Linked DNA regions of Homo sapiens. The protein of the gene in region 1 interacts with the protein of each later gene in a biochemical or structural test. Each region holds a gene or a part of one and is shown in the gene's direction. Other genes may lie near its edges. The genes, in order: OXSR1 and SLC12A1.

What was found.
Region 2: the proteins of OXSR1 (region 1) and SLC12A1 interact in a test that uses a peptide from one of them, tested with the Homo sapiens proteins (one large-scale study listed by BioGRID and IntAct).

The regions. Positions count from the first base shown.
Region 1 is NC_000003.12:38,171,804-38,175,630, forward strand, and holds part of OXSR1 (serine/threonine-protein kinase OSR1), read left to right. Parts: intron 1-3,827. UniProt on the Homo sapiens protein: Effector serine/threonine-protein kinase component of the WNK-SPAK/OSR1 kinase cascade, which is involved in various processes, such as ion transport, response to hypertonic stress and blood pressure.
Region 2 is NC_000015.10:48,204,680-48,208,606, forward strand, and holds the start of SLC12A1 (solute carrier family 12 member 1), read left to right. Parts: upstream 1-1,622; 5' UTR 1,623-1,651; intron 1,652-2,854; 5' UTR 2,855-3,040; coding exon 3,041-3,460; intron 3,461-3,927. UniProt on the Homo sapiens protein: Renal sodium, potassium and chloride ion cotransporter that mediates the transepithelial NaCl reabsorption in the thick ascending limb and plays an essential role in the urinary concentration and volume regulation. Electrically silent transporter system.

The DNA.
Region 1 (3,827 bases):
TTAGTCTTAGATTAGAATTTCTGAGCATGTGTTATACTGTATTTGGCATGTGTTGAAGCAGCTGTAAAAATTTGGGCTTTGGGGTTAGACTGACCCAGATTCAAATCCTGACATTGCCTCTTACTAGTTATGTGATCTTAGACAAATTATATGATTAGTTTCCGTGTCAGCTTTTTGTCTGTATAGTGGGGAGAATAGTACCTATGTCACTGGGGCCGTTATATAGATTGAGTGTAATTATTTGTGGGAAGTGTTTAGCTTGTATAAAATGATAGTTGTTATTATCTCTGACTTTTTTTTACCCTTCCCCTTGTCCTCATATTTCCCAATTTTTGGTATTGCCATGAAATATGAAATACTATGTGATGTGAAAGCTTGTGACACTTAAAATAGTTTGAATCTGTTTTTAATGCTTAGTGGAACATTATTGCATTTATTTTATTTTCGCATCTTTTTTTTTCTTAGTCCAGGCCTCATTCAGGTTTAGATGGATTTAGGGATTTATGTTGGACATCGTAGTATAACTGTAAGGACCATCACCATGATATTGCTAATAATACAATATGATGGCAGAGAGGGCTGTGCCAGTTAGGTTTTATTGCCCTGCATCTTGAAAAGTCTCAATAAGTATTTACTATTTACCTCAGACTAGAAAATTGAAAACTTAATACTAGGTTTAAGGTGTGATTCACCTAGCTTTGACACTTTGAAGGCAGTGCAATATATTTCTATTCTTGACTTTCCCTTCTTTTTATTTTCATTGATTGTTTACTAGCCACACATTTTGAGTTTAAAGTTGTGGTTTTCAAATACAGATTCCAGGGCCTTACCTTTAGCGCCTCCATAAATGTGAAGGACTTCGTGCTTTCAATAGAGTGGTGCTTAATAGTGTATTTTTCCATTGATTGGGAGACTCAGCTAAGGTGACATTTTCTATGAGGCCAGCATTGGGCCAACAACCTCATAGTGTTGTATCAAATAAGGCTTACATTTCTCTGCATGTGGGGAAAATGGAAATAATAGTGGCTTAATAAAATCCTTTTTCCCCCTTATATAACAAGAAGACTGGAGGTGGCAGCCTAGGTGCTGTCAGGCACCCAGGCTCCTAGTTTTTTCATGCGACCACACTTAGCAGGTGACTCTCCTTCTCATAGTTGGAAGATGGTTGTTCCACCTCTAGACTCATGCTTGTGTTCTTGTCCAGAAGAATATGGCAAAAGGACAAAGACACATGACAGCTGAGTTGGTTCTCTTTTAAAAGGCTTTCTTTCCTAGATGCCTTACTCAGTGACTTCCACTTCTATTTTACTGGCCAGAACTGTATAATTTGGTCATTTGCAAGGCAGACTGCAAAATGAAGCTTTAGCTGGACACATTATTACTTCAAACAAAATAGGTCAGGATTATCTTACTAAAGAAGGGGAAATTGTATGTTTGCTAAGCAACTAAGAATATTGGCCTCATTTTTTTTTAAAATGAAAATAGTCAAATAGGGTATTGCAAGTAAATAATTTAACCTGATGCATAGTAATCAGTTAATAAATGTTAGCTTTAATCTGAAGAGGTAGTTGCCTACTGATTAAGAGCATAATGTTGAAACTCAGGTAGTTCTTATTTCTAGGCCCTACTCTGCCTAACTAACTGTATGACCTAAGTTTTACCTTAATTACATTGCTTTACTTACATTGTCTTGTAAGACCATGAATACCTATCACATGGAATTATTGTAATGATTAGATGAAAAGAAGAAATGTAAGTAAAGAAAGTGCTCAGCATAGACTTGGCACACAGAATGGATGCTCAGTGAATGTTAATGTACATGATGGTAACGATGAAATAACACCCATGAAGACTGGGCTATTTCTGTGTGTGTTCTGCCCCAAACAAGATTTTTTTTCCTTGAAAATATACCCCACTATGTGATTAATTCATTCAGCAAATATTTCTTGAACTCCTGTTATGTGCCAGGCACTGTTCTGGATGCTGGAGATAAAACAATGAAGCAAACACAAAAAATGCCTGCTTTCACAGAGTTTATAATCTAGAAACTCTAAAGAAGAAAAAGCAGGGAAAGGGGTTAGGGACTGCTAGGGGTGGAGGTGGGGTTTCAGTTTTAGGTCAGGGAAAACCTCACTGAGAAGATGACAGTTGAGGAAAGACCTGAAGAAGGTGAAGAAGTGAATGATGTGGTTATCTGCAGGAAGTTTGTTCCAAGCAGAGGACAACAAGAACAAAGGTTCTGAAGCAGAAGCATGCTAATGTGATTAAGGAATGCTAAGGAGGTTTGAGGGCAGCTAGAGCAGAGTAAATCAGAAGGTGAAGAGACAGATAGGTGAAGAGGTTAGAAAGGTAAGGTGGTATGGATGCTTGGTCCTGATTGTCAGGTTGTAAGTTGTTGTAGGAACTTGGCTTTTGCTTTGAGTAAGACTGAAAATCATTGCAGGGTTTTGAACAGAGATTTAACGTGACCTGACTTTCGTTTTAAAACTCAGGCTGCAGGCTGGGCGAGGTGCCTCACCTGTAATCCCAGCACTTTGGGAGGCGGAGGCAGGTGGATCACATGAGGCCAGGAGTTTGAGACCAGCCTGGCCAACACGGTGAAACCCCATCTCTACTAAAAATACAAAAATTAGCTGGGTTTGGTGGTGCATGTCTGTAATCCCAGCTACTCGGGAGGTTGAGGCATGAGAATCGCTTGAACCCGAGTGACAGAGGTTGCAGTGAGCCGAGATGGCGCCACTGCACTCCAGCCTGGGTGACAGAATGAGACACTGTCTCAAAAACAAACAAACAAACACCTCAGGCTGCAATATGAAGAATAGTTTTATAAGGGCACAAGGGTGGAAGGAGGTTATCCAGGGGAGAGAAGTAGTAGTGGAGATGGTGAGAAGTGGTCAGATTCTGGATATAGCATATTTTTTGAAGTTAGGAGGATTTGCTGTTGGATTAGATGTGAGAGAAAGGGAAGATAAGATGATTCCAAGATTTTTGGCTAGAGCATCTGGAAGAATGGAGTTGCCATCCGCTCAGATGGGAGATCACCAGAGTGAACAGGAGAGCGAGTGATGATTCATTGCAAAACCATCAGGCTGCTTGAATACTTACTTGAAGCATATGGCAGTGTCTTTATTTTCATCTTTGTATGGAGAGAATAGCATGATTTTTATGATGATGACTATTCTTACAGATGTTTTGCCAGTTAATTTTCAACATGACTCTGACAAGAGACCTTATTTAGAAAAGGGGTTAACAAAATTGTAAATTCTTATGTTTTGTGTGGTTCAGGTGACAATACTTTAGTCATCTTTCAAAACAGCCTGGGCTAGTGCTTTTCTTCAGTGAATGCAAAACCTTACTAAAATATACTTTAAAATCTTTAGACTATAAGCCTATTATAGTGATGGCTGGGCACAATTTAGGAGAAAATGTGTTCATTTGATTTGATTCATTTAATTCATTTTTTCCTGACAGGAATATCTACTTTTACATTATCTCTCTCTTTTTTAAAAAATTTATTTTTGAGGTGGGGTCTCGCTCTGTTGCCCAGGCTGGAGTGCAGCAGTATGATCATGGCTCACCTCTGCCTCCCAGGTTCAAGCCATCCTCCCACCTTAGCCTCCCAAGTAGCTGGGACTACAGGCGTGTGCCACCACACCCGGCTAATTTTTGTATTTTTTTGTAGAGACGGGGTTTTACTGTGTTGGCCAGGCTGGTCTCAAACTTGTCAGCTCAAGTGATCTGCCTGCCTTGGCCTCCCAAAGTGCTGAGACTACAGGTGGGAGCCACAATGCCCGGCCCTACGTTCTCTCTCTTAAATTTCTAAGTTT
Region 2 (3,927 bases), on another chromosome or scaffold:
CATTAGCCTGACTGATTAGCATGACATTTACTTAACGAAGAGGATCTAAAGGGTTTTACTTAGGTGTCTCTAGACACTTCTATAATCCTGTATCAGTTCACTAACTTACCTTTACACTTATTTTTTATAGACAAAATATCTATCCCAATCTCTAATGATTCACCTCACAATCTTGTATGTGCTAAGTAAAAATCCCCAGCTAATTGTAAATAGCGCTAAAATAGTGAAAGCAAGCACTAGGTACAAATTGTTGCTGTTCTAAACCCCATACACAAACTAACTCATTTATTCCTCAAAATAACTCTACAACAAGGTAGGTACAATTATAATCCACAACTGCATTTGCAGATGAGAAAATTAAGGCACAGAAAGATTGAGTAACTTGACTGAGTTCACACAGACAGCAAGTGGCAGGGCCACGACATAAGTTGGGCCTTCTGACTTGAGTCTTGCTCCTAGCCACTATATTACACCACAACCGAGCTACTCAGACAACTGGAAATCACTTAAATCGTTTCTTATAAGAAACAAAGAGGACTCATTCAATCATCCTGATTGATAATCAGTGACAGACTTGAGGGAGGAATTGTTTGCAGTGTTAATAATCACCTACTTGCAGATCTGAAAAAGAAAAACCTTTTCCTCAACAAAACTCAAAAACTGAGTTGGACAAAAAAATGTTTTTCTAGTTGGAGACAGAAAGGTCATTTAGTAGTGCCACTGAGATGCTTACCCACAGTTTGGTTCCTGCTTAAAACAGTTTTCCCTGCTGGGCGCGGTGGCTCACACCTGTAATCTTGACACTTTGGGAGGCTGTGCCGGGCAGATTACCTGAGGTCTGGAGTTCAAGATCAGCCTGGTCAACCTGGTGAAACCCCATCTCTACTAAAATTACAAAAAAATTTAGCCAGGCGTGGTGGTGGGCGCCTGTAATCCCAGCTACTCAGGTGGCCGAGGCAGGAGAATCACTTGAACCTGGGAGACAGAAGTTGCAGTGAGCTGAGATTGCACCAGTGCACTGCAACCTGGGCAACAGAGCGAGACTCCATCTCAAAAAAAAAAAATTTTCCCATATTTCCCAAAATAGAAATATTTTCAATAAATCATTGATTCCACTCTTAATCTGCTTACTTCCCATGCAAAAGAGTCAAGGTAATGTCTACTACAAGCAAGATAAAATCATTTCAGACACTACTTTCTAGTTACAGAGTATAGAAATTGTCTCTGGAGAACTATATTTTGATACACATGCTAAACAATAGGAGGTCACTAGGACTCATCTGTAAGACGGTGGAACTCAATTTATCTATTCCCAAATGACTAATGGCAATGCTCATATTTTTTGGACAATTGCTGTTAAGGGATCCAATTCTCCTTATGAATTAAAGAAACTCTATGTTACTTCCTGTCTAAAAGGATTAATGGTTTACTACTAGTTACCAGTTGATGTGGTACTTAAGTTTCCTCAGGGCTAATGACCTGGTGGGGCTTACAGTACTATTCCAGGCCAATCATTGCACAGTCATCTCTTTCAAGAAAGTTTCTAACCAATAAGCAGAAGCCTAACTTTCTGGCTGAAAGCTAAGTGTCCCATATATTCCTGGGTGACGCTGAAGCAGGTTACATTTCCTCAGAAGAAGGCTCCTTGGTGGTAAGTTGAACATTTCTGGGCAGGGTAAAAATCATACTTAATATTATGTCATAAAGTAGATTCTGAGGAGTAGGTGAGGGTGTCAAGGACTATGAAGAGAAGTGTTTTGTAAAAACTAAAACGATAATAGCTTCATTTATAATTTCCCCAGGAAAGGTTACTTGAGAAATGAAGTTGAGGGTTTTTTTAATTCAAATACACAGCTTTAATAACTGCATGAGAGAGACAAGTTTTTATTTATATTTATCTCATTTTTCTAGAACTTCCCTTGAAAAGCCAAATTTTAAGGTATCAATAAGGAAATATAATTCTAAAGCAAGTGTTTTAAGACAGGCCAGTACTATGAAATTGCGAAAATTATTGTGAAGTCTATTCACCTCACAGTCAAATATAAACCTCTCAATTATTGAAGACATTTCATTAAAATGAGTCAGTAGAGCATGATTATTTTACCTAAACATAGCAGAGGACTTTTTTAAGGTATATGACTTATTTCTTATAGATATATGACTTATTTCTATATTCATATTTTTTTAAGGTTTCATGTTAGTATTTGCAAAACAAACAAATGTATGAGCAAATGAAACATTTGGATCTTGTAAAAGATCTAAGAATTCACAGAGACATCATCTTGATGGGATGTATTTTTTAAATGCATATTCTAAAACATAATTTTTTACTTGTTGCATAGGTAACAAAATTTGGAATTTATAAGTTGAACATGTACAGATTTTTATAAACTAGCAAGAATATATTTTTTAGAAGTTTTGTTTTTCATTTTATATGTTGTATAGTATATATTCCTAACAATCAAAATACTTTGCAGTTTCAGCATTTAGTACTGTCAGTGAACTGTGTCTTAGGCTGAGAATATTCTCATCAGCTCTTACTGTATTCAATAAGTAAAGTTACATCTTTTCTAAAGTCACAGTGAACTCCAGTGCACTGAATTCAAGCAAATACTACAAACACAGGTAACATTTTAATGACTGCATTGGAAGTTCTGTTTGCTGGAACAGTTTTCCAGTTATTTATTATCAGATTTAATTACTCACATGACTAAGGTTCCTGGACAGATAAATTTTAGTGAAATGAGTTTAAAATTGTATGTCTTGTAAAATAAAACTGTTCCCTTATATCCCACCCTTACCTAAATATATTTGTATTACTTGGAACAAGTTTAATTTTCTTTTTCAATGACAGCTTTGAAGAACATCCTGAAGATTATATCGGAGACAATATATCAAGAATCTATTTATTGAATCATCTAGAACAAAAGCCAGGAGCTCCCTAATGGAAGCACATTAGTGTTTATTTTGATGAAGAAATATATAGATTTTTTAAAACAACCACAAAGTAGATAGCTCAGTAAAAAATCAATTTTGGAAGATGTCACTGAACAACTCTTCCAATGTATTTCTGGATTCAGTGCCCAGTAATACCAATCGCTTTCAAGTTAGTGTCATAAATGAGAACCATGAGAGCAGTGCAGCTGCAGATGACAATACTGACCCACCACATTATGAAGAAACCTCTTTTGGGGATGAAGCTCAGAAAAGACTCAGAATCAGCTTTAGGCCTGGGAATCAGGAGTGCTATGACAATTTCCTCCAAAGTGGAGAAACTGCTAAAACAGATGCCAGTTTTCACGCTTATGATTCTCACACAAACACATACTATCTACAAACTTTTGGCCACAACACCATGGATGCCGTTCCCAAGATAGAGTACTATCGTAACACCGGCAGCATCAGTGGGCCCAAGGTCAACCGACCCAGCCTGCTTGAGATTCACGAGCAACTCGCAAAGGTAAGCTTGAAGGACACAAGCAAGTCTCCTCCCTTATTCATAACTTCAGATAATTTCCTTCTCTTTCATTACACTATGAATGAATGTGAAACAGTCAAATGGAGAGGTCTATTCCAAACACTATCCATCTTACTTACAAAACTGTCCCTAGTTCCCAGAAAAGTGTTTCACAGATGCTTTTTCTTTGGATTTTTTTTTTTCTTGAGACAAAGTCTTGCTCTGTCACCCAGCCTGAAGTGTGGTGGACACTGCAGCTTTGAACTCCTGGGCTCAAACAATCCTCCCACCTCAACCTCCTGAGTAGCTGGGACTGCAGGCATGCACCACCACACCTGACTAACTTTTTTATTTTTTGTAGAGACAGGGTCTTGCTATGTTGCTCAAGCTGGTCTCGAACTCCTGACTTAAAGGGATCCTCCCACCTTGGCCTCCCAAAGAGATGGGATTGCAGGCATGAGCCACTGTGC